Linked DNA regions of Homo sapiens: regions 2 and 3 are each linked to region 1. The links come from fine-mapping of genetic effects on plasma protein levels. Region 1 holds a variant in brackets. A gene starts in each other region. All regions are shown on their reverse strands.

Region 1 (8,175 bases):
CAAAGAGATGGTGACTTCCATCTGGCTTGTTAAAATGAGATCACAGTCCTGGCCAATGCCTGGGCTACGACCTTGGGAAAGACCCTGAGGCAGAGGCACCAGGTAAGTTGTAGTCATACTCCTGGCCCACAGAAAGTGAGAGGTGATAAGTGTTTGTTGTTATAAGCTGACACATTTCAGGCTTGTTTGTTACATGATGGTAGATAACTAATACATCTGTAGGGAAGTGGGGTGGACGTAGGTATGAGAGGGATTGCAAATAGGCATGAAGAAATTTGGAGGCAAAGGATATATTTATTACCTTGATGCCTGTGATGTTTTCATGGGTGAATATATATGCCAAAACTTATTGATTTATATATAATGACATATATTGAATTATAAACACATATAATTATATTTATATATTATAAATGTGTGCAGTTTATTGTATATAAATTATATCTCAATAAAGACGTTTGTATTTTAAAATGGGGAATAAAAAGCTTATGGAAAGACAGTGTTTCAGGCAAAAGAGCAAATGAAAACAAAAGCCCAGAGCAAGAGCTCCAGAAAAAGCAGACCATTTCAAAGTGTGCATTGACATGGGAAACCTTTGCTCTTGGATTTGAAAGAGATAAGTAGGTTAAGGGAAGGAAGGAGGACAAGATTGGTTGTGAAAAGAGGTAAAAGAGAACAAAGAGAACAAATAGTCAGTGACTTCAAACAAATACCATGGATTTTTGTGCAAGAAAGACCACTTGGGTTCTTTAAGGCCCATAGGACAACTGGGTCAGAAAAGGAGAGAGTGGCATCTCTAGTCTACTCCCAAACCATCTTTCAATCCCTGCTCCTCCTGCCTCCTTTATCCCCAACCCCTTGCCATTCATTTGTACTTTCCTTCCCTTTACAAATATTTGAGCATTTACTATGTGCCAGAAACTGTTCTAGGAGTTAGAGAGAAGGTAGTTAGCAAGTTAAGGTCTGTGACCTCTAAAAGTTTACATGCTAGTAGGGGAAGGCAGGTGGCATTAAGTAGGAAGATGATTTCCTATGGAGTGCTGTGAAGACAGTGGTGATAGAGTCCTTAACACCAGGTATGGCACAGCCTCAATCAGTCAGTTCAGTCCCAGCTGAACAAAACACTATTTGGGAGAAGAATCCTAGAGACCCTACTGTGCCAGGAAATAATACCTTGGTTGCTAGATCATGGTAAAGTGAGGGAGGATTCCAGGGAAGAGAGAATGGTCAGTATTGTGGAGGACCTCTTGGAGGGTCTGAGGAAGTGGTTATTTAACAACCACTGTAGAAATATGTCATTATTCTAATAACCAGTAATTCTGTACTGGTGCTAACCATTTGATATCAGCACTGAGGTCTTAGTAACTGGTGCAGAGAGAGGGTTCAGGAGAAGAGGGTGTGGAGGAAGTCTACTCTAGATGGTAATATTGGGAAAGGCCTCTCAGAAGAAGTGACATTTAAGCTATGACCTGAATGAAGAGAAAGAGAAATGCAAGGGGTAGTTGGGAAGTTAAGTCAGGGGGATGGGAAGAGGATTCTAGCCAAAGAATAGCAAAGACAATGATGGTGAAGTGCAATAAACTTGGTGTGTGTACCGAATGGTACAAAAGCTAATGTTGCTGCAACGTTATGCTGAGTGAATTATAAGAAATTAGGTCAGATGATAAGCACAGCCCAGATCTTGTGGGGCCTTTCAGGCCACAATAAGAAAATAAAATGAGAAGCCACAAGAGGGAGGATTTTAAGCATGGAAATGATATAATCTGATTTACATTTTTAAAGGATTACGTGGGCCTTGGTAAGAAGAATGGATTTGTGGGGAGGGTGATTAGGGAGAGAACAATGGAGAATCTGTTCTAGCCTGGAGATGATAGCAGCCTGAACCAGAGTAATGGCAGTGGAAATGGGGAAAATTGGGTTGATTCAAGATTATTTGAAAGTTGTAGTGGTTTCAAAGAGCTATCTATACATTCTTTGATATGTGGGCTAGGCATTTTTGCACTGCTATAAACACCTGAGGCTGGGTAATTTATATAAAAAAAGTTTTAATTGGTTCATGGTTCTGTAGGCTGTACAGGAAGCATGGTGTCAACATCTGCTCAGGTTCTGGTGAGGACCTCAGGAAGCTTAAAATCATGGGGGAAGGTGATGGGCATCACTAGCATGTCACATGGCAAGAGAGGGAGTGGGGGTGGGGGGAGGTGCTATAGTCTTTTAAACAACCAAATCTCACGTGAACTCAGAGCAAGAGAACTCACTCATTACCATGAGGATGGCACCAAGACAATTCAGAGGGATCTGCCACCATGACCCAACACCTCCTACCCTGTCCCACCTCCACCATTGGGGATCACATTTCAGCATGAGATTTGGAGGGGACAAACATCCAAACCATATCAATATGCCTCAAGGCATATGAAGGGGAGCCTCAAAAGGTGAAGTTTAATTCTTCTCACCTTGAATGTAAACTGGAGTTAGCAGTTTGCATCTAACAAACAGAATATGACAGAAGTTAGGGGATGTCATTTCAGAAGTTAGGTTAATAAAAGATTGTGGCATCCATTTTGGAGGCATGCTATCTCACTCTTTCAGATTGCTCATTCTAGTGAAAGTCAGCTACCTTGTTCTGTTGTAGTTCTGTAGAGAGGCCCACGTATCAAGGGACTGAAGTATCAAGGGACTGAAGTCTCTAAAGAGCTGTGTGAGTAATCTTGGAGGCTGATCTCACCTCCTTCACCCACTCCAGTTGAGCCTTCAGATAAGATGGCAATTCACACTGACAGCTCAGCTGCTAACTCATGAGAGACCTTGAGCCAGAGGTATCTAGCTGTGCCATGCCTGAATTCCTGACCCACAGAAATGATGAGATAATAAATGTTTGTTGTTTTTAATGGTGAGACTTTAGTATAATTTGTTATGCAGCATACGATAACTAATACAAAATAGAGCCTATAGGACTGACTGATCTGTTTGGTGCAAGAGGGTGTGAGGAAAAGAGATGGATGAAAGAAGATATGTAGATTTTGGACTTGAGCAACTGGATGGTAGTGATGCCATTTATTGAAGTGTGAGTTTGGGCAGGGGGGATTAAGAGTTTTCCTTTGGACACATTTTGAAAAGACTGTTAAACACCCCAGTGGGCATGTCAACCAGGTAGCCTGCTGGGCCCTGCCCAAATTCCTTATGCACTGTTTATGAGCATAAGAAAATGATTGTTTGGTTTAGCAGCTAACCTTGTGAAATATCTCCAATCTTCCATTCTCACCTTAACCCATTCTAATATGGTTTGTGTTCTTTTGACTCGTGTAGAATTTGTTCTTATTAAACCACCTATTGTATCCATGTTATCTAATTCAGTAGTTACTTCTCTGCCATAAGCATACTCAACTCATAGCCACATTGGACACAGATCATCATTCCCCCTCTTTTCGAATACTCTTCTCTTTTGGATTCATTGGTTCTACTTCTTAGGTAGATTCTTCTGCTCCACCTGGTGTTAACCAGGGTGGCTTAGCCAGTGGTATTCAGTTGGTGGCCAGGCTGTGGTGGCTGGGCTTGTCTAATAGCCCACTTCATTCATTTCTGCTTCCTTGGTGCCGATGGTTAAGAGGTTGGCTTCAGCTGACCACTTTCCCTCTCCATATGTTCATGGCCTTTCATGTGAATGCTCCAGTGGAGTGGTCAGGTTTTTTACATAGTAGCTCAAGGCTTAAGAGCAAGTGTTCAGAAGGAGCAGAGAGAGAGGGCAGTAGTTACAATGTGAGGCCAAAGAAGCTTCCCCCCAGAAAGCTAAAGGTGATAAGTAAAGCATGTTGGTATTGGCTGGCAATATTCCACAAGAGATGAAAGGACAGATATTGCAGAAGAGAGAAGGTATAACTGGGACCAAAAGCCTTGAGAAGGAAAGAGACATGGAGCAAATCATTCACAGTAACAGCAGACAGCAGAGAAGAGAGACATGGTTGTACAGAGGCACCTCCTTTGGGTCTTTACTCAAATGCCCCATTATCAGTGAGAACTTCTCTGACTGCTATTCTTCAGCAGAGGGTATTCCTTATCCCCTTTCTTGCTTTATGTGTTTTCTCCATAACATATGTGCATATCCATAACACACACATGCATCACCTAGAGCATTATATATGCCACAGTGACATGTTTTGCTGATTTCTCAATTGACTCCCCCCATTGGAATGAACGTAAGCTTGAGGAAGACGTTTTGTCCTGTTCTGTAGCATCTAGAACAGCGCCTGGCACATAGTAGGTACTCAATAAATGCCAGCTGCATGAGGAAATGAATGAGCTGTGTGGGGGATGTACTTGAGTGAACTCTAAAGTCAGAGTGGTGTTGAGAGAAAAATGCTTGAAATCCAGATGTTGGAAGGTGACACAGAGTAGTAGCCTGGTGAGAACAGTTAGATCTTAGGGGTTCCTACTACAGCCCTCCCTTCCGCACCTTTTTGGCTGTCACCATGATCAAGCTACTGAATCTCTCTGAGACGCAAGGACCGGGATGGCACAAAGTGAGTGCTCACCAAAGCTTGACTGTCCTTTCCCATGGCAATTTACTTCAGCTTGTTTGATTTCCCCTCCCCGACTGGACTAGGCACCTATTCTCTGTCTTCTCTCTTTACAGTTGGAAGGAGCAAAATGGGACTTTTGGCTGAAAGTGCTGAGCTCCTGCGGTGGGGGCTGACCGCAAGCCACGCCTTCTGTGCACCTGGTCGGCCCAGCTAGCTGCCGACCCGGCGGGGAGGGG[C/T]GGGGCGGGCCAATCGGCGCTGCCCCAGCAGGGCTGCGGCTGCAGGCAGGCAGAGCCTCCTAGCCCGTCGGTGTCTGCGCCCATCGATCCCTTTGTCTATCCCCGACCATGGCGAAGCTGATTGCGCTCACCCTCTTGGGGATGGGACTGGCACTCTTCAGGAACCACCAGTCTTCTTACCAGTAAGTTGGGTTGTGGTGAGGGCTGCAGCCTTCGTCCTCCTCACTCCCTGCCAGCTCCACGAGCCCCCAGAAAGTTGGGTCCAGGCTGTTAACAGAACATTTACAAGCAGGTGCTAGATGCACACTCTGCGGGGGTTTCATAAATGTTTGTCCAGCCGTCATGTGTCACTTGAAAACAAACTCTTGCTCATGGCCTGAGACATGGGATAAGGAGGCAATTGCCAGGGGTGTGAGTGCCCAGGTTGTCAGCATACACGAATTAATTTTTCATGAAGATTTGTGTGCCCTGGCTACAGATTCACTTCTCAACCTGGAAAGAAACAAACTAACCTGGCTGGGGGTTCTCCTGATATTTTGTGTATTAGAGAAAGGAGCCCCTGTCGCTTCTGCGCCTTGACTGCCTGGCCATGGCAAACCTTCCAGGCTTGAAGATTCTCAAATTGAGGCTACTGAGGGCCACAGCAAAACTGCGTGTGGACCCGAGCAGGTGGAGCTAACGTGTGCTGTGATGGTTCGCTTCAGTGGGGGCAGGCGGGGAAGAGGGAACCCTGGAGCCAGCATCTGATGTCCTGGGGTTTAGCTCTGCCCCATGAGTATGCGATTTGGGCAAATCACTTTACATCTCTAACCTTAGCTGCTTCAGTAAACTGGAAATAGTAATACACACTGCCTGCGACAGAGTAGCTATTCAATAAATGTTAGTTCCCTGCTTCCCTTTAAAGTATTTAATAAAGGGTTAAGTGCTATACAAGGGGGGTGGGGATATTTTAAGAATGTATCAAAAGTTTCATAACTTTTAACAGGAGTTCAAAGTCTACAGATCATCCTAGTCTCTAAGGCTTAGTCAACAATGCCTTATTTACTTTAAAGTAAAACCTAATAAAAATTAAATATAAAAAAATTATATGAGCTTATGGACTAATTAGAAGCTTACATTCAGAATGGGTTTTTACTATTTATTGTGGATGTTTTTCTAATTTTTTTAAGTTACAGAGTGCAGAAAAAAAGTAAGAAGCAGTTGGTATTCTTGGCTTTTAAATCATGTAAAAATTACAGTTTGTGAGTTTTTATTAATCACAGTGCTGGTGGCTGCCAAAGGAGATTATAGGTATAGATAAAAATATATAGATAAAGGATGGGTTGCTGAGCCTCCTGGAGTGACCCAGACAGAGGAAGGAAGGGAAATTTTACCCACTGTTGGAAACCCCTAAAACCTAGCTACTCAACTGGGTCTGGGGACCAGATGCCTGAGCATCACCTAGGGGCTCCCTGTACAGGCAGAATCTCAAGCCCTACCCCACACTATTGAATCAGAACCAGCGTCATGGAACAAACTCCCTGGGGGATTAGAGATCATGAATCTGCCCCAGGGAGAGAAGGCAAGAGATGATATCATGAGGCCTGCATCAGGAGCAAGCCAAATCCCCAGGATAGATGCATCCTTTTTTCTTCAGACTTGGAGTGTATGTGTGTGCGGCTCACAGGAAGCTATATATGCCTGGGCTGGAGGGAACTTAAGGAAGCACACAAGGGATGCCTCAAGAGATTTCTGAGTTTCCCAGGTGGGAGCAGTACAGAGAAAAGAACTGAGAGAGTTCCCCTAGACCACGAGTCTCCCACCCACGAGTCTCCCACCTTTGTAGTCGGCTGTATGTGCCGCACAAGTCCAGGGAATGCCTTGGATGATGGTAGAAACAGCTCCCCTCCCCTACCCCAACTTGGGCTATGGAATGTTGCAGCATCTGTATGGCAACTTCCTTGTCCCTACATTGCTAATTGCAATACGTGAGTCCACTGAGTTTCCCTTCTCAGAAGGAAACCACAAAGCTAACGTTGGGCCTCTCGATGCATTTCTGCCATTCCATGCTTACTGTAGGCAACACACAGTTGTGGGAAGAGAGTAGTTGTGGATTCCTGATGACCTGGGTTAGATATCATTTCTGCAACTTTCAAGTTATTTTACCACTTTATTCCAGAAAAGTTCCAGCCAGTTTCTCCACCCGAAAATTAGGGGATAATAATACATATTACAGCATATATATATATATATACACACACACACACACACACATACATATATTTATATTTATATAAAACATATAAATAAAACTAAGTATATATATATATATAAAAATCAGGCATATAGCAGATGTCCTGTAAACGTTAGCTTTTATAGCTGTCATATGTGATCTCAAAAATATAGAGTGATACTTGAATATGTATTATAATCATACTTCATTGAAAGTCTGAGATAAGGACAAATAATCCTCCAACCCTCCAGTCTCCCCTATGAATGCAACCAACACCATCTTCTCAGTCTGATGTACTTGCCTAGTATCTCCACAAAACACTTCAGTGGACATCTGCAGAGTACCTTCTCTTTGCAAACGTTGTGTTTCTGCTGGAGGTTATAGGAATGAATAGGTTGCAGTATTCACTCACCAATTTTAAAGTCTACTGGGAGCAAAAGAACAAAAACTGACAGCTGTGAAACTGACAACTATGACAACTATGGTAAGAAAGTTGACAGATGTATATGTGAAGGTTCCTGAGGGTAAACTAAGGAGTTATTAATCCCAATGCAGAAGACTGGAGAAGCTACAAAGCATCATGAGTAGGGGTCTTTCCAGTGGGTAATGGGCTAAAGAGCATTCTAGGTGAAGGGAAAAGTGTGAGCAAATAAAAAGAGGTATGAAAGAAATACAGGGAAGAGTCCTTAGTATCATGACACTTGATTTCAAATCCCAACTCTACCCTCTTAAATAAGCAACCACATGCAATTTACTCAGCCTCTCAGTGCCTCCATTTCCTTACCTACAAAACAGGGTAAATATTCATCTTTTTCTCAAAGGTGGCTAAAAAGATTAAATGAGGAAGTATGTGTGAGAGCCCTTATTGGAGCTTGGCACATAGTAGGCCATGAAAAGCAATTTGAATGAATGAGGCGTGTGTAGTAGCAGAAAATAGACTGATTAGAGTGAATTTGGCCCCAAGAAGAGTTTGAGAATCGATACGGATTTCTTAATGCCTAGGCAAAGATCTCTGCTTTTTTCTGCGAGCAGCCAGCATGTATTTTCACCGAATACTTCTGCCTTGGTTTGGATGTTCGTCCTCTCCAAACCTCGTATTTGATCTCTAATGTTGGAGGTGGGGCCCAATGGGAGGTGTTTGGGTCATGAAGATGGATCCCTCATGAATAGATTAATGACCTCCTTGGGAGTGAGTGAATTCTCACTC
Region 2 (8,148 bases), not on the chromosome of region 1:
AGGCTGAGCTGGCCCCACAAAGATGCCTGGCTGGGGGCACCAGTGAGGGCCCCACCAGCCCAGGTTGGAGTGGGGGATACCTTGGAGGGACCTGGCCAGGAGACACGGGAAGACTGGACAGTGGGGGTACAGACGGGGAGCGGCACAGCTCGGTTCAACAGAGCGCCGGGGTGTGAGCTTAGCCCCATGGGGCACCAGGGCCTTGTGGATCCCTGGACTTGGTTCCCAGGGGTTCTGAAGGGGAGGGATGGAGCAGATAGCATTTCAGAGCCGCCTCACTGGCCAGGCATAGGTCCAAGTAGAAGAGAGTGAAGGTTGAGGGCAGAGCAGCCCCCAAGGCAGGGACAGAGAAGCAGGCACGCCCAAAGGCAGAAGAGCCCATTCCAGATTCCCCTCCCTTTTAGGGGATATCTGGGTCTGTGGGCACCCAAGGGAGCACCTGGCTGGCAGGCGGCTGGGAGGGCATAGCTTCCTGGAGCTGGAGACACCAAGCGAGCCCTGTTAGTGCCGTGGGCACCCAGCCAACCCCAGCAACACCGCCTAGCGACGCAGTCCAGACAAACAGTAGCAACAACCGCCCCGGTTTCCATGACAATGACTTGGAAACAAACACGGCAGGCAGGCGTCATCCTCAAACCGGCCCCGCAGGAAATGGTCCTGCCCCAGCCAGACCTGGGGTCGGGGGTGCTGCTGTCCCTGGCGGGGTCAGGGGCTGATCTCTGGAGGAGACCCCTTACCCACATCATCCCCGCAACCGACCCTGGAAGGTCTTCTGGCACACAAATCCCCCACCGCCGCCCAGGTTTTAGAGAAGGGCACACCACCCACCACTCTCCTCACGACATAGTTTCCACTGGAGGCTCCCAAGGGAGGGGGGTCCAGCTGAGCCCTCCAGTCCCCCCCCCGCCCCCCGCCCCGCCAAGCTGAAAGCAGGAATTTCCCATGCAACCCTGGGAGCCCGCAGCAAGGGCGGAGACGGGCACTCCGGAAATTCTCAGTTCTCCCGAAACAACCCCCCAACACACACAAGGAAGCCTGGGCCTGGCAGGAGGGGATGAGAAGGGGAACCATCCCAGCCTCTCCTGTGAGCAGGGGTCTGGAACCTGCCTGATCCTCCCCTCTGCCTGGGGTTGGGGACTGGCCGTCCCTTCCGCAACGTCAGGCCCCGGGGGTTTTGGCTGAATTCCAGGTGGGAGGAGACCGCACTGGGTGCCTGGCTGGAGGGCAGCTGTGGTACGGCTGGACCCCGGAGCCAGCCCAGGCCCCGCCAGGACATGGATGGCTGCTCTCGGGACAATGGGCTCAGCATCCAGGCTCAGCTCCGTCTGAGCCCATGGGCTGGAGGGTGGCCAGGCAGGGAGCTGTGCCAACGGCTGGGAGCAGGGAAGAGGCGTAAAGCCCCGGCCACCCTGTAGCACTGGGGACAGGGGCCTGGAGGTGGCCAGGTCTGAGTGCCCCTCACTGAAGGAAGGGCCAAGGCAACTTCGGTGTGGTGCCAGGAGCAGAGGAGCATAAACCAAGGTGGGAAGTCCAGATGGCGCCAGGACAGGGCTCAGCCACTGGGGAAGGTCTCCACGTTTCTGCTCTGTGCTGCCAGAATGGGACAGTGCGCCCTCTAGTGGGCACCCGAGGAGTGGCGCACAGCAAAGGCGGGGCGCGGGGGAGGGGAGAGCTCCTTGGAGCCGCCAGCGCCCCTGGCTGAAAGGGCAGAGCCTGGACCATGAAGACGCCAGGGGCGAGTCGGTCATCACTAAAACCTTCACCAGAACACTTGGGCAGGGATTCTGTCCCTGGGCCACACCCAAGGCAGGCCTGTCCACAAAAGCCTGTCCATCACCCTATGGACAAAAGCTGGAAACAGCCACGCTGAGCCTCTCCAGTCCTTGCTCTGACCAGAGCCCCCAAACCCTCCTGCGCATCCCAGTCCAGTCTGGGGCTGCCAGAGACCTCTGTCCCACCCGACCTTCGCCGGCTTCCCCATTCTCTGCCCAGGACCCCTCCTCTGGTCCCCGGCCCCCTTCCCTCCTCAGCCACACTCTGCTCTCAGGGCGGACCCCTCCTGCGCTTGCCAGGGTCCACACACCCAGGCAGCTCCGGGTTCTCAGGCCTGCTGTTGGTATTTTCAGGGTTCTAGGTTCAACTTTTCTCCAAGGCTCTGTCCTCCATGGACCCCACCCTCACCTGACCCTGGCCAGGACCCTGGCCCCGGAATGCCTCCCACCTTCCTTACCTCCCCACAGCCTGGCGTTCTTACTGCCTCCCCATCTGGGTGGGCACCACCACCCAAACCGGAGACCACGCTCCCCGCCCCCATCCCTCCCTCCTGCTCAGAAACATCCCAGGGCCCCACCTCCCACTATGACCCCCAGGAGAAGAGCCCACCCCCACTAGCAGCCAGGCCCAGGGGTGTTGGCTGGGAGCACGCATGGACCGGAGAAAGGGACCCTGGTCTGGGATTTGCATCCATCCCACAAGCAGAGACAATCCTGCAATCCTCAAACCGTTTATTGACAGCACAAGGCTCAACAGCAGGTGAGCCACGTGAGGGTGGCGAGCGCTTGCGAGGCAGTGTGGGCACCAGGCAGGGGATCCCGGAGGGAAGCCCTCTGCCAGGGACATGGTGAGGGCGTGGCCATCACCCACGAAGGGAGCATAAATAACACTGGCAGGTGGGTGGGCAGCAGGAGAGGGAGAGCGGACAGCGCCACGGGGACACGCAGGGTCGGCGGGAAAATGCTGGGACAGGGTCACACGGGGATTCGGACACGCAGACACAGAAGGGATCATGGGACGCCCAGAGGATGCCAGAGGGGGCAGACACACCAGAGACTCGGGGATGGGCATGGTGCTCTGCCCGTGGCTGCCCCTCCTCCAATACTCGCCCTGGGCTTGCAGGCAGGACTGGGCGGCTGAGCACTCTCCCAGCAGAGCCAAGCAGGGGGGCCCCTGCAGGGTCTGGGGCGCAGGTGAGCCCACATCATGAGAGCCGCTGTAGCCTAGGGCTGGACCTTGCCTTCGGGGTCCCGGTCATAGATGTAGCTGCCCACCGCACCGGTGTTCACTCCTGTGGAGGGAGGCCGCTGGGGTGGGTCGGGGGAACAGTGGAGGGAAGGGGAGGGCAGGGAAGACATCGTGGACCACCCTGGCTACACTCACCCTTGGGTCCGAAGAGGATTCCATAGCAGGGCTTGTGGCAGTAGGGCTGGCCGTCGTGCTGGGGCAGAAGGTGGGTGCTGAGGGAGGAGTCCACAGACTCCCCCGACCCATCACCTGGAGGCTTCCAGAACGTGCAGGCCGGCTCGCCGTGGGGGAGAGGGCAGCGCAGCTCCCAGAAGCACCACCCCCCATCCCCTCTAGGCGCGCCTCTCACCCTCATCCCCCCGACCCCGCGCCCCTGCCCGGCCCCCAAGCCCCGTTGCACTCCCCTCACCTCCGCGTGCCCGCCGGGGGTCAGTGTCTTCCCGCAGCGCTCGCAGCGCAGGCAGGGCCGGTGCCAATCCTTGCCCAGAGACGTCACCTTCTCAGCTGGAAAGGGGGAGGAGTGAGGCCGAGCCCCGGGGCGGGGGCGGGGGCGGGGGTCCGGGGCCCGGGCGCGCACTCACCGAAGTACACCTTCTTGCTGCAGCGCGGGCACGTGTTGGGCTCCCCGGTGAAAGTGGTGACACTGGAGGCTGTGGGGCGCACGAGTCAGGGCGGGGCGGGGCCGGGGGTGCCCACAACCCCCAGCCCCAGCCCGCGCGTGCCCACAACCCCCAGCCCCAGCCCGCGCCCAGCCCACCTCTGCTGGGCCCCTTCGGGGGGCCGCTCGCCTTCCGCTCCTCTGCTCGGGCCGCGGGGACCTCGATGGGGCCGGTGACCTGCGGCCCCTCCGCCAGGGGCTTCTCGTAGATGTAGGAGCCCGCGCCCCCGATGTTCACGCCTGCGGGTGGGGGTACGTGGGGCGGGGGTACGTGGGGTGGGGGCCGCGGCCACCGGGCATCTCAGAAAACGGCCCGCTGGGGACTGGGGGGCACTAGGCTTTCCAGGGTGGCAGGGACTCTGGGCGGGGATCCACGGCGGCCGGGACCCCCAGCCCTCCCCAGCGCCAGCGCCACGCCCCTCCCAGCAGGTCCCAGGGCAGGCCGAGGGCAGCCGGAGCTCACCTTTGGGTCCGAACAGGGTGGCGTAGCACGGCTTGTGGCAGAACGGCTTCCCGTCATGCTGCGCAGAGGGGCGCGGGTCAGGACCCTGCCTGAGGGTGGCGGGAGTCGCGACCCCCGCCCCCGCCCGCGCCGCGCAGTGGGGCTCACCTCGGCGTGGCCCCCGGGCGTCAGCGTCTTGCTGCAGCGCTCGCACTTGAGGCAGAACTTGTGCCAGTCCTTCCCCAGGGAGCTCACCTTCTCGGCTGAGCGGGAGGGGCGGCAGGGGGGTCAGGGCCGGGGCGCGCCCCGCACCCCCTCCGCCCCCACCTGGCAGCCACCACCCCCACGCGCTCCGGGGGTCCCCACTTTCAGGAGGTCTCCCAGGCGCCTTCCTTCCACCTGGCGGGCCCTGCCCCTCCTTCTGAGACCCGGAGGAGCCCGTCGCCCCCAGGCCCTGTTCTCCCTCTGGGTCTCAGCGCCCCCAGCCCTGGAACCCCGCTAGAGCCGCCTTTGAGAAGGGGCCCGGGGCTGCCCTGTTAGTCCCCTCAGTGCCTGCGGTGAAGGGGCCTGTGCTCGAGCCTGCCCGCGCTCCAACACCTGCCCGCGCTCCAACACCTGCCCGCGCTCCAACACCTGCCCGCGCTCCAACACCTGCCCGCGCTCCAACACCTGCCTCCCGGACACCCGCCTCACACCCGCCTCCCCCACACGCCCGCCTCCCCCCACAAATCTGCCTCCTCCCACACACCTTCCTCTCACACACACACCCGCCTCCCCCACACGCCCGCCTCCACACACCCGCTTCCCCCCACACACACCCGCTTCCTCAGACACACACCCGCTTCCCCCCACACACCTGCCTCCCCCCACACATATGCATCTCCCCCACCTGTCATTCCCTCAAACACTTCTCTTACACTCACACACCTGCCTCTGCAGTGCACCTGCTTCAACACATGCTGCTCTCCCTCTCACACCTGCCTCGCACTGACACGCCCCTGATCCCCACCAACTGGGCCCTGATGGGGCTGGCAGCACCCCGCTGCTGAGTCAAAGGTGCAGCCCCAGAACCTCCAGCTCCCTCATGGGAAGGCCAGGCCCCGTCCCCGTGGGTCCTCCAGGCGGGACCCTCATCTGTCTGTGGATTCCTCGTCCTAAACCCTGAGCTCTCCCCCCGCCGTAATGCCCCTGGCTGCCACTGGCATGGAAGATCTGAGGGCAGCTGCTGAGGGTCCGGGACCCTCTGCCACTGCCTCCCACCCCCACACTGGGGCTACTGGACTGCTTCCCAGTGGATGGAAGCAGGGGCCTCCCTAGGGAGCCAGGCAGGAAGAGGTGGGGAGGGGCAGGAAGGGCCCAGCAGAGCCGGAATTCTGAAGGGAAGGGGACAAGCTGCAGGCCCTGGGGGGAGGGAGCATGCAGGCTGGGCCCACCCTGCCCGGCAGAATCTGGCCAAGCCCCTCAGGTGGCCGAGGACCAGTGGCTCTCCCAGCTCCCTTTCTCAGCAAGTGGCCCAGCCCCCTTTGTCTGGCAGATATCGGGGAGGGGCATCTGGCTAGGGCGAAGCCCACTCTGAGAGGCCCAAGGGTGCTGCTCCTGGCAGTGAGATGGGATCCCCCAGGTGGCCTACTAGGTAGAGGGCTGTGAATACTGGCTCTCCGTGGCCCTGGTACAACCCTCTGGGCATGGCCAGGGCCAGCCTCCAGGACACCAGCCCAACCACAAGGCTGCACCAGCTTAGAGCCCTCTGACCAGAACCACTCCACTCAAGGAAGCTGGGACACACCAGGGCAGGCAGGGGCTGGCTGCACGGTGGGCAGGCGTGTCCCAGCAGCAGCAAGGAAGTCTCGGTGGCTATCGGCCGTGGCAGCTGCAGCCCAGGGCTGCCAGCACTGTGCTCTGGCCAGCTCTGGGACGTGGGCCAAGTGGGGGCAGGGAACTGGCCCTCAGACCCACTGGGTGGGTCAATGGCCACACATTACGGGTCCGAGTTGGGAACACAGAATCGATTGGGTCTAATGGCTCAGAAGAAAACCAGCTGCCCACCCTGGCTGCATGGGCTCTGGGGTGGCCTCCTCAATGTGCTCCGACATCCCAGCCTGGGTTCTACTCAGGTATGAGCTGCGGGGGCAGCCTGGTGTGAGGGTGGGCAGGATTCTGGACCCTCGCCCTCACAGTGCCTCCCAGGCAGGACAGAAGCCAGCCGGGTCTGAAGCGCCTTTGTTTTCCGCTGAGAGGCTGGGCGGGCCAGGCAGGCAGGCCTTTCCGGGCTGTCCACAGGACTGTTGGCCGAGACCCTGGAGAGCCCCAGGCTGGCCTGGCCCGGCCTGGGGTAAAGTCATGGGCAGTTGGACTGCAGAAGGGCCCTGGGGACCGTCTCCCACCCTAAGCCTTACAGAGACAGCCCTCGCTGGGACAGAGACTGAGGGCTGAGCGGGCTCCAGGAGAGGCAGCCGGAAGCCCCTCGGCTCCCAGCCACGCCAGAAGCACTCCAGGCCAAATCCGGTCCCTCCCCTCTGGGACGGGCAAAATACAACCTCCCCTCAACCCCCTCCAGCCTGTGAGCCGGGGAAGCCCAGTGGCGGCCTTCCCTGCAGCCTGGCCGCATTCTGGGTATGGGGCGACCAGGGCAGGCGCCCTGTTGGTCCCGGCCCTCCTCTCTGCTTCACTAAGTCTGCCCCCCTTCGTGCAGCAGCTGGTGGGTAGGTGGGCAGGGACCTTACCACCCTGGAGAAAGCTGGGCAGCGAATCAGCCAGGAGGAAGGGGGTAGGAAGGGCGCACCCAGGCCCAGAGAGTGAGTAAGCCCAGACGGGGGGAGCGCGCCTGCCGGAGGGGCTAGACCGAGGGCCGCCTTGCGAGACATCCCTCTTCCCGCCACCACCTGCATCCTGTCCAGGGCTGTTCTGACCTTGAGGAGGCAGGGATCCTGGACACCTGGGCTGCTTGAGCACAAGGTCCCTCTCACGTTCGCGGGAACTCGCGTGTCACACCCGCCCCCACCCTACCCCCGTGTGAAACTCCTGGGGGAACTGGCGCCAAGGGAATGCGTCGGGACAAGCAGGAGGCAGAGGCCAAGGTCGCCCCCGCTTGGACTGAATCCCGACAGAGTCCAAACCTGGCCCAGCCCAGCTCAGCGGAGCCCGGAGTGGGAGCTGGGGGTCACTGTTCCCGGCCACTTGTTCCCGGGGGAAGCGGGTGTAGGGGGTCCAGGAGAAAGGGCCCAGGCCCACGGGAGCGCGCGGGACGCACCCGGGGCGTACAGCCACGCCCTGCCCCGCCCCGCCCGGCGCCGTCCGAGGAACCGGGATGCGTCCGCGGATCCCCGAGCGCTCCCCCAAACACTGGCCTCATCCCGGGGCACCACAAGCCCCGCCCGGGTGGTCCCTGCCCCGCCCCCACAAGCCGCTTCGGGGTTCGGGCGTGACCGCCCCCGCTTTCGCGCAGCCCCACCCTTTGGCTTTAGCCGCTTGGGCAGCGCGGCCAGCCAGCCTCCGGGACGCGCATCCTCGGTCCGGGGCCGGGGCCGGGCGCACCCCGAGTTACGCCGCGGCTCTGCGGCGCGGGACTGGCCGCGAAGGGCGGCGGGATGCACCGAGCGGGCCGGGAGCGGGCACGCACTCACCGAAGTACACGGTCTTGTCGCACTTGGGGCATTTGGAGGCCATGGTCGGTGCGCCCGGTCGGCCCGCGCCCTCCGCCCGTTCTCCTCCGGGCCGCCGCCGCCCGCGCCCAGCCCCGCCTGCCCGGCTGTCCGCGCGCCCATTGGCTCCGCGGCCGGGGCGGGGCCTCGATAACCCGTCCCCCGGGCTGGGGGCCGCCTGGGGGCGCCGCGGGGGCGGGGCGCACCTGCCGGGGGTGGCGGGTGCGGGGCAGCCGGGCCAGGCCTGGCGCCCCCGGGCCCCTCGCGCCGGAGGTGGCGTCTACAGGGGCCCGCCCGGGCGACCGCGGCGCCGCCCGCGCCCCGGCTGTTTCCATGGCGACGTCGGGGCCGCCTGGCCGGGCCGTCCCCGGGGCGGCGGGCAGGGT
Region 3 (8,167 bases), not on the chromosome of region 1:
GAGATTGCGCCACTGCACTCCCACCTGGGCCACAGAGCGAGACTCCGTCTCAAAAAAAAAAAAAAAAAAAAAAAAAAAAAAGAAACAACAAAAGAAGCTATAGGGTTTTTGGGTGTGGCCCACATTGCGGATCATCCAGCCCTGGTCTAGGTGGGTGGCTTTAGCCTGAAGGAGCCATGGAAGTTTTAGGAGCTGGTGCACTCAGCTTTGGGAGAAAGTGAGGGCATAGAACGCTGGCCCCGTCTGAGTTTTGACTCTGGCTGGCCGTGTGAACACCACCTAGCACCCTAGGGCATTGTTGGGCCCATCAGCAAGAGAATGTTTTGTCAAGGTGGGGGTAGAACTGGATTTCCCACTACCTTGGGCCCATGAGGCTCATGGGACTTTGGAGAAGCCGCTCATTTTCACATTCTGTAATGTAAACAAGAATAATCTAGATTCATATATATTACCTCCTTTTATGTTGAGAACAACCCTATAGGATAAGTACTACTCTTGTTGCCATTTCCCAGATGAGGAAACTGAGGCACGGAGACGTGGAAGAACTTTCCCTAGGTCACTGTAAGCAGCATAAAGCATCGCTGTGTGCTGGGCCAGTGCCATTTCCGCGCCACCACCGAGACCCCACGGCACGCCTTGCTCACTGTGCAGGAGGCCGCAGTTGCCTTTAGGAGCATGAGGCACTGTGTGCTCCATCTCTGGGGTTCAGAGTGTGCGGTCATGTTATGCCTGCATTCGTATCAGAATGAGGCCCAGGAGGCTGATGGGTTGCAGATTTGCATGCAATGGCGCGATCTCGGCTCACTGCAACCTCCATCTGCCGGGTCCAAGCGGTTCTCCTGCCTCAACCTCCCGAGTAGCTGGGACTACAGGCTTGCACCAACCATGTCTGGCTCATTTTTCCATGTTTAGTGGAGATGGGGTTTCACCATGTTGCCCAGGCTGGTCTCAAAGTCCTGGCCTCAGGTGATCTGCCCGCCTCGGCCTCCCAAAGTGCTGGGATTACAGGTGTGAGCCACCGCGCTGGGCTGCATGAACCTCTTACATGCTTGCCTTCTCTGGAGGGCCTGGACTTTGAAGCTTCTTTCACTCCCAGCATCTTTCCCTACACAGGCCCTCTTCCCCACTATCTCTGGGGGAGGAGTCTGCAGGCCAGTTCTGCAATGTGCCGCCAGAGGGAGCTGCCCGCAGAGAAACGGGAGCGCCACACTCAGGCCCCAGGAAGGCAGCAAGCTGAGTTCCCCTGGCCTCAGTTCACTTTCCCTCTTGAAAGTCACCCAAACTCAAGCAAAAGCTCCGATTCAGGAATAAATGGGGTTGTTTTATCCCAGCCAAGGCCTGGGGAAGCTTGGTATTAAGAGCGTTTGTTCCATTCTTTTAAAAATGGAAAAGGGTCCGTCCTCTGGGTGCCCATGGCACCCTGGAAAGCAGGCAGAGTGCTGGTCACAGGCGGAGACTTTGAGATACCGAGACCGAGGCTGGAGTTTGGGCCCTGAAACTTTCTAACCAGGATGGCCTTGGGCAGAGCAGCCTGTGTTTAGAGCTTCCCATCTGTAATATAGCAGTGACAACCATGCCTGCTTTGCAGGGTTCCTGTTAGGATTAATTCTCTATAGAGCCCCCCAGAAGCCACTTTTGGATTTGAGATGGTTCAAGGCCAGACCTTGCATGACAAGAGTAGGGACAGCTTTCCACAGGCCTCAATAAAGTAGTATTCCCAGGCAGTTCTGCAACCCCAGCCTCATGCCCTTTGCACCTTCCTAAGAGGCTGCCTTGCCTCAGCTTTGGTCCCCATCCAAGACTCCTAAGAGCAAAGCCAGTTCTTTTCCTTTTTTTTCTTTCTTTAAGAGACGGTCTCACTCTGTCACCCAGGTTGAAGTGCAGTGGTGGGATCATAGTTCACTGCAGCCTCGAACTCCTGGGCTCAAGCAATCCTCCCGCTTCAGCCTCCCAAAATGCTGTAGGTCACAGGTATGACTCACCCACCCGGCCTAATTTTTATTATTATTTGTAGAGATGGGATGTCACTGTGTTGCCCACGCTCGAACTGCTGGGCTCAAGCAATCCTCCCTCCTCAGCCTCACTGGCAGCTGGGATTACGAGTCCCACCCAACCTGCTTCTCCTTTTGCAACCCCCAGACCCAGAGGCTCCAGAGCAGGCTCTGGAACAGAGGAAATCTGGCTCCGGCCCACACATTCACCAAATACTGACGCAGCACCCTTGACCTCCAGATGCCCCTGTGCTCTCTTCTGTGCCCAGGCTGCGGGGAGAGAGGGGTCCTCCAGGCCAAAGGGAGGGAGGTCTCCGGGAGGTCCCCGCGGTCCTGGAGGCAGGTGCGCGGGGCCCGGATGTGATCATGCGTGCGCGTGGGAGAAAGGCAGGGCTGGGCCTGCGGGAGCGCGGCCTTGCGGTTCCCAGGACTCTTCTCCGGGCGCCTCGTCTCCTTACGCCACCCGCAACCCAAGCCAGGGCCCCGGTGACAGCGGCGGGGTGGGCCAGGACCGGGGAGGGGGTGCCCAGCAGCGACCCCCGGCTCCCCCTAAGGCCGGGCGCAGCTCGGAGCCAGGAGCTGGCCCGGCGCGTGGCTTCCCGGAAGGCCCGGCGCAGCCGGAAGGTGGGACGGAGGGCGGGGCCAGCGCCGGGGCCGCCACCAAGGCCTGCGCGACCCTCCGCGGGGCTGGGGAGCTGGGCGGGGAGCCCGGGGCCTGCCAGGCCCGGGCTGCAGCCGCGTCTGATCGCCGAGCGCGCCGCGTAGACCTCCGCTCCCCCAGGTAAAGGAGCGCCCGGAGCCGGGGCGGGGCGCCTCCCAGGCCGCGCCCCGCGAGAGGAGGGGGCACCCCAAGAGCAGGCCTGGAGACCCGGGAGTGCCTTGGGGAGAGGGTCCCCGCCCTGCCGGGAGCCCGGCCCTCCCGGTGCCGGGGTGGACACTGTTAGTGTAGTCATTGTCCCTATGGAGAAACTGAGGCATGGAGAGGCTGAAGTCACACAAGTAAGCAGCAGAGCTGGGACTAGAGTCCCGGGCCCTGGCTCGCTGTCACCCAGGAGTGGCGTAGGCATGGGTGTGGTGGGTGGGGGTGGGGTGCGGGTGGTGGATGTGGTGGGAGTGGGTGAGGTTGGGTGGGGTGGGGATGTGGGTTTGGCGGGGGTGGGGTGCGGAATGTGATGGGTAGGGGTGGGGTAGAGTGGGGGTGGCTGGTGGGGCAGGGGCGGGGCTGGGGGTGGGGTGCTAGGTATTATAAATGTGAAGCGGATCCTGACAGGACACCTGTGGGGCAGCGGAGCTGGGCTGAGCCATATGGGAAGAAAATCTGGGCGCTAGTTTAGATTTGGTCAGGAAGGGTCGTTAATGCTTTAGGAGGTGAGATTAGTTTTGGGGATGGCAGGTAGTTTGTTGAGCTTTTGTTTAGACAGTCTTGCTCTGTTGTCCAGGCTGGAGTGCAATGGCGCGATCTCGGCTCACTGCAACCTCCACCTCCCTCGTTCAAGCAATTCCCCTGCCTCAGCCTCCCTAGTAGCTGGGATTACAGGCGACACCACCAAGCCTGGCTAATTTTTTTGTATTTTTAGTAGAGACGGAGTTTCACCATATCGGCCAGGCTAATCTCAAACTCCTGACCTTGCGATCCACCTGCCTCAGCCTTCTGCAATGCTGGGATTACAGACGTGAGCCACCCCGACCAATTTTTGTATTTTTTAGTAGAGACGGGGTTTCACCATCTTGGAATAGCACCTGTAGTTCCAGCTACTCGGGAGGCCGAGGCGGAAGAATTGCTTGAGGCCAGTTCCCGACCAGCCTAGGCAACACAGGGAGACTGCGTTTCTGGAAAAAACAACAACAACACCAGCAACAACAAAAAGCAGGAAGGAAGGGGAGAGGGAAAGAGAAAGAGAGAGAGAGAGAACGAAAGAGAAAGAGAAAAGGAAGGAAGGAAGGAAGGAAAGAAAGAAAAAAAGAAAGAGGGATACTTTGAGAAGCTTTGAAGTGATCTGTTTATTGATCAAGTAGATAGGTAAGGTGCATGCTGCCAGGAGGAGCTGGGGTAGGGAGGGCAGGGCCCTGCTGTATGGGGGTGGGCAGGGGACGGCCCCTGCTCAGCCCTGGCCTCCATTGCTACACAGAATGGCAGGTCCAATGTGATCTGGTCTTCTGATTTTTCAGGAGAAATCAGGAATCTGAGGTGCATGCAAAATCTCCTGATTTTTAAATATTGGCAACTAATTTGTTTTAAAAAAACAACAACTATGAGCTAATCCAAAACTGTTTGCTGGTGGGATCCACCTACTGCCTTTGCGCTGGGGTATGGAGAGGTGGGAGGTCAATGTTGACAAGAGCCAGATCTAATTTTTTGTTAAAGAAAAGGGTACTTGGAGGTCAGATAGCTCTCTTCATAGCTATCTGAAGCCTTCCTCTCCCTTATCTCTTACAATCTGGTCCAAACTCAGAAAGCTAGGCCGCTCTCGGTGAGATGGGCTTGTCTCCGTCTCTCTGTACCTGTCAGAGCAGCCTGGGCGCCTGCAAGAAACCGGGGCTTCCAGTTGGCATTTGCCTTCCCTGTGGCTGGCAGATGGGCTTCCTGTGATCAAGGCCTGGTATGTGGATAAATCTGAGTGTGAAATAGGTGTGATACAGTGGGGGAGGGGGAGCCACACTCCCACCCCCTAAGGTCTGTCCCCATCCTCCCTCCTCACCCACTTCCCTGTCATTTACAGACAAAGGCAGCCTTGCGGTGGGAGAAGGAGCAGGGTGGGCTTCCCTCTCAATCTGGTGAGCCTGGAGAATTCAGGAAGCTGAGCTTTTTAGCAAGGGCTCAGGAGATGGAGTTACTAACCTTTCTTCCCCAACAAGAGCCTGTTAATGCTCTAACTTCTGAAATGATTACTACAAAGAAATTGAACCTTGGATGGAGTCAGCCACAACATCTCTACCCGTGGTGCTGGACTATTAAAACACAGTGACTTCCTCTGCCTGCCCTCACACACGCAGTGATAGCTGCTGGCCCTCCCATTCTGCAGAACCCTGGGCTTGTGTCTCAGTGAAACCTGCCTCATTGTCTGAGATATCACTGAAGTTCTGGGTCTCATGGCCAAGGAAATCAAGGACGCAGACACTCCAGAGGGTAGGTTAGAGCAGAAGTTTAATAAGCAAAAGAAAGAAAGCTCTCTGGATCAGAGAGGGGTCCCAGAAAGATGGGTTGCCATTTTACAGTGAAATGCAAGGGTTTTTATAGAAAAGCTGGTGGGAGGGGTGCTTCATTTACATAAGGTGCGAATTTCTGAGTCCCCCGCCCCACTGTTTCTAGTGCACATGTGGGCTTCTTAGCCTGAGTTACTACTCCATGTTGCTTATTTCTTCCTACTGTGCATGTGTGAAAAAGGTTGGGTGGTGGGGGGGAAGAACACTCCAAGGTAGACATGCCTGGTCCAGGGTAGCTCTTCTTATCAGTGCCATGCAAGCCTCTGTGTCTGAGTATTTCTTTTTTCTTTTTTTTTTGAGACGGAGTCCCACTCTGCTGCCAGGCTGGAGTGCAGTGGTGTGATCTCAGCTCACTGCAACCTCCACCTCCCGGGTTCAAGTGGTTCTCCTGCCTCAGCCTCCCAAGTAGCTGGGATTACAGGCGAGCACCATGACACCTGGCTAATTTTTGTATTTTTTTAGTAGAGATGGGTTTTCACCATGTTGGCCAGGATAGTCTCGATCTCTTGACCTCGTGATCTGCCCACCTCGGCTTCCCAAAGTGCTGGGATTACAAGCGTGAGCCACCGTGGCCGGCCGTGTCTTGAGTATTTCTAAGAAGGGAGAGGACTGTGCTTACTGGGGCCCACCATATGTCTGTATGTCACACAGGGGACCCGCTTTCTGTGTTAGAGCTTGCCTTCCTTATCTGTGTTTCCTGAAAGGGCAACGACTTCTTAGGCTGCTTTTTGTTAGAAGGGAATTCTGCCAAGGACCCTTGCCCTAACTATTTGCCTAATTGATTTCTCTCTCTCCTCTCACATTGATGCTGGCCTGGCTGGAGCAGGTAGAGCTGGAAGTAGCATTTTTGCAAGGACATCTCTTTAGCCTCTGTAGATTTTCACCTCAAGTCATTCGGAGCAGGTCGGAAGCTAGGTTTTTTTTGGGGGGGGAAGCCAGTAGAGCTAAAGTGGTTATGTATCTGTTTCCTGCCTTCCTTCTTTCCACTTCTACATGCATTTTCTTGCTGTGCAGAAACTGTTTTGAGAGTGCAGACCCAAAACTGCAGAAAACCTGTTTTGGGAGTGGTGTCTGGGTGCTGGCCTGGAAGCCAGCCTTGCAGACCAAGCATGGCAGGGCTCAGGGTCTTCACGCCCGGGGAAAGGGAGGTTCCTTGCAGCCTCCAAAGGGGCCCTCCTGAGACCTGGGCAGTGCCTCTCTTTTTCCAATATAATTGACAGATGAAAAGCTGGATATAAACCAGAACTAAGCTCAAAGGTGATTAGATATTTTACACCAGGATTTTGAGCTTTTTGTAAGATTTTACTGTAAAATTATTTCCTTTGGTTACTTTAATATGTACTTCAAATATATCTCATTTTGTGCTGGACGTAGTGGCTCACGCCCATAATCCCAGCACTTTGAGAGGCCAAGGCAGGCAGATCACCTGAGGCCAGGAGTTCAAGACCAGCCTGGCCAACATGGTGAAACCCCATCTCTACTAAAAATACAAAAATTAGCCAGGTGTGGTGGTGCATGTCTGTAGTCCCAGCTATTCGGGAGGTTGAGGCAGGAGAATCGCTTGAACGTGGGAGGCGGAGGCTGCAGTGAGCCGAGATCGCGCCGCTACACTCCAGCCTAGGTGACGGAGCAGACTCTGTCTCAAAAAAAAAAAAAAAAAAAAAACCTCTCTGTATATCTCTATCTAGCTATCTATGTCATTTTGTTTGTGTGATAGCTTTTCAGGACCATGGTGACTGGATAAATCAGGTTCTGCGCTCCGTCTCCCCATTTCCAGGTGGCTTCTGCCTGTTCAGTCCTGACACTGTTATAATGCCATTTTATCGTTTAGACATTTGTATGTAAACAAATCTTGACCACTGGAATAGTGGAAGGGGGTTCTCTTCTGGGGAGAAGGAGGAGGCATTCAACCTGTCAGCAAGCAAAGGAGCTGGGCAGGGCCTGGAAAGCAGGAGACCAGGTTTTGGGAGACCCAGGGCACAGGGTAGCCAGAGCAGGGACCCCCAGGCCTGAGTGCTCCTCCAGTCCCTTATGTGAGCAGGGCTCACAAGGCCTGCCCTCCCACTGCCTCTCATACTCCATGGGGACAAAAAGACATATCTAGGGGTGCTTGTTTGCAATTTCTGAATTTGAAGACTGAGTAACGAATGTCAGAGTCCTGCGTTATGCCCTCTTGGGGTCTTGCTGCCCAAAGTGAGATCAGAGGAGCACTTTGGGGGCTTGTTGGAAATGCAGAATCTTACCCTCCCATACTGGCTGTATCTGACAAGGTTTTCAGTGATTCCCGTGCACTTGTGGAGAATCACAGGTCTAATGTGTACCAACGGGGAAAAAGAAGGGAAATTTACAGGGGCAGGAGCGCAGGATGCTCTCCTGGGACTGCAGAGAAGTTCTGAGGACCTGGCTTTGCGGTCCTCTCATGGATTCATGGGTTTGTTCTCTGGGCTCAAAATTATATCCCAGGATTGGGAGAGCAATTTTACAGTAGGGACTTCTGCTTCTGGATCATCCTTGGGTCAGAAAAGCACACATGTCTGGGTACGGTGGCCCACACCTGTAATCCCAGTACTCTGGGAGGCTGAGGCAGGAAGATTGCTTGAGCTCAGGAAGTCAAGACCAGGCTGGGCAACATTGCGAGACCCTGTCTCTATGAAAACAAAAAATTAGCTGAGCGTAGTGTTGCATGCCTTTAGCCCCAGCTACTCAGGAGACTGAGGTGGGGGGATCACTGTAGCCCAGGAGTTCAAGGCTGCAGTCAGCCATGATCGCACCACTGCACACCAGCTTGGGCAACAAGAGACACTGTCTCTTAAAAACAAACGAACAAACAAAACAAAAAAACCTCATAAAACATATAACCCAAAGATATTAAGGTCAAATGTAGTGGCTCACGCCTGTAATCCTAACACTTTGAGAGGCTAAGGCAGGAGGATCTCTTGAGCCCAGGAGTTCAAGACCAGCCTGGGCAACAT

Alleles and levels. Alleles are on the strand shown, and positions count from the first base shown. The strength of an association depends on the size of the effect and on how common the allele is.
In carriers of allele C in region 1, the plasma level of the protein whose gene starts at base 7,829 in region 2 tends to be lower than with T alone (moderate association).
For the plasma level of the protein whose gene starts at base 2,636 in region 3, allele T in region 1 goes with a higher level than allele C (moderate association).

Evidence for each region. PIP is the chance, under the fine-mapping model, that this variant and not a neighbour inherited with it causes the effect. Protein levels are from antibody-based Olink assays in UK Biobank. Linkage for the fine-mapping came from a reference panel and not from the study's own genotypes, which makes the PIPs less certain.
Region 2: it holds the start of CRIP2, and the variant in region 1 is fine-mapped to the plasma level of the CRIP2 protein (UK Biobank, PIP above 0.99).
Region 3: C19orf12 starts here. The variant in region 1 is fine-mapped to the plasma level of the C19orf12 protein (UK Biobank, PIP above 0.99).

Annotation. Positions count from the first base shown.
Region 1 is chr7:95,321,165-95,329,339 of GRCh38, reverse strand. PON1 (paraoxonase 1) reads left to right here and starts at 4,808. Exons shown (of 9, transcript NM_000446.7): 1 at 4,808-4,938. The coding sequence starts at 4,865. RefSeq lists a silencer at 4,685-4,864. The variant C/T (reference allele first, on the strand shown) is at 4,757.
Region 2 is chr14:105,474,502-105,482,649 of GRCh38, reverse strand. It overlaps CRIP2 (cysteine rich protein 2), which reads right to left and starts at 7,829. Exons shown (of 8, transcript NM_001312.4): 1 at 7,745-7,829; 2 at 4,290-4,384; 3 at 4,143-4,200; 4 at 3,779-3,919; 5 at 3,603-3,671; 6 at 3,431-3,525; 7 at 3,157-3,214; 8 at 2,488-3,064. The coding sequence starts at 7,787. The coding sequence ends at 2,997. RefSeq lists enhancers at 234-553, 1,334-1,443, 1,112-1,833 and silencers at 1,574-1,723, 7,807-7,916, 8,097-8,148.
Region 3 is chr19:29,709,730-29,717,896 of GRCh38, reverse strand. It overlaps C19orf12 (chromosome 19 open reading frame 12), which reads left to right and starts at 2,636. Exons shown (of 3, transcript NM_031448.6): 1 at 2,636-2,772. RefSeq lists enhancers at 1,277-1,496, 2,042-2,141 and a silencer at 2,312-3,101.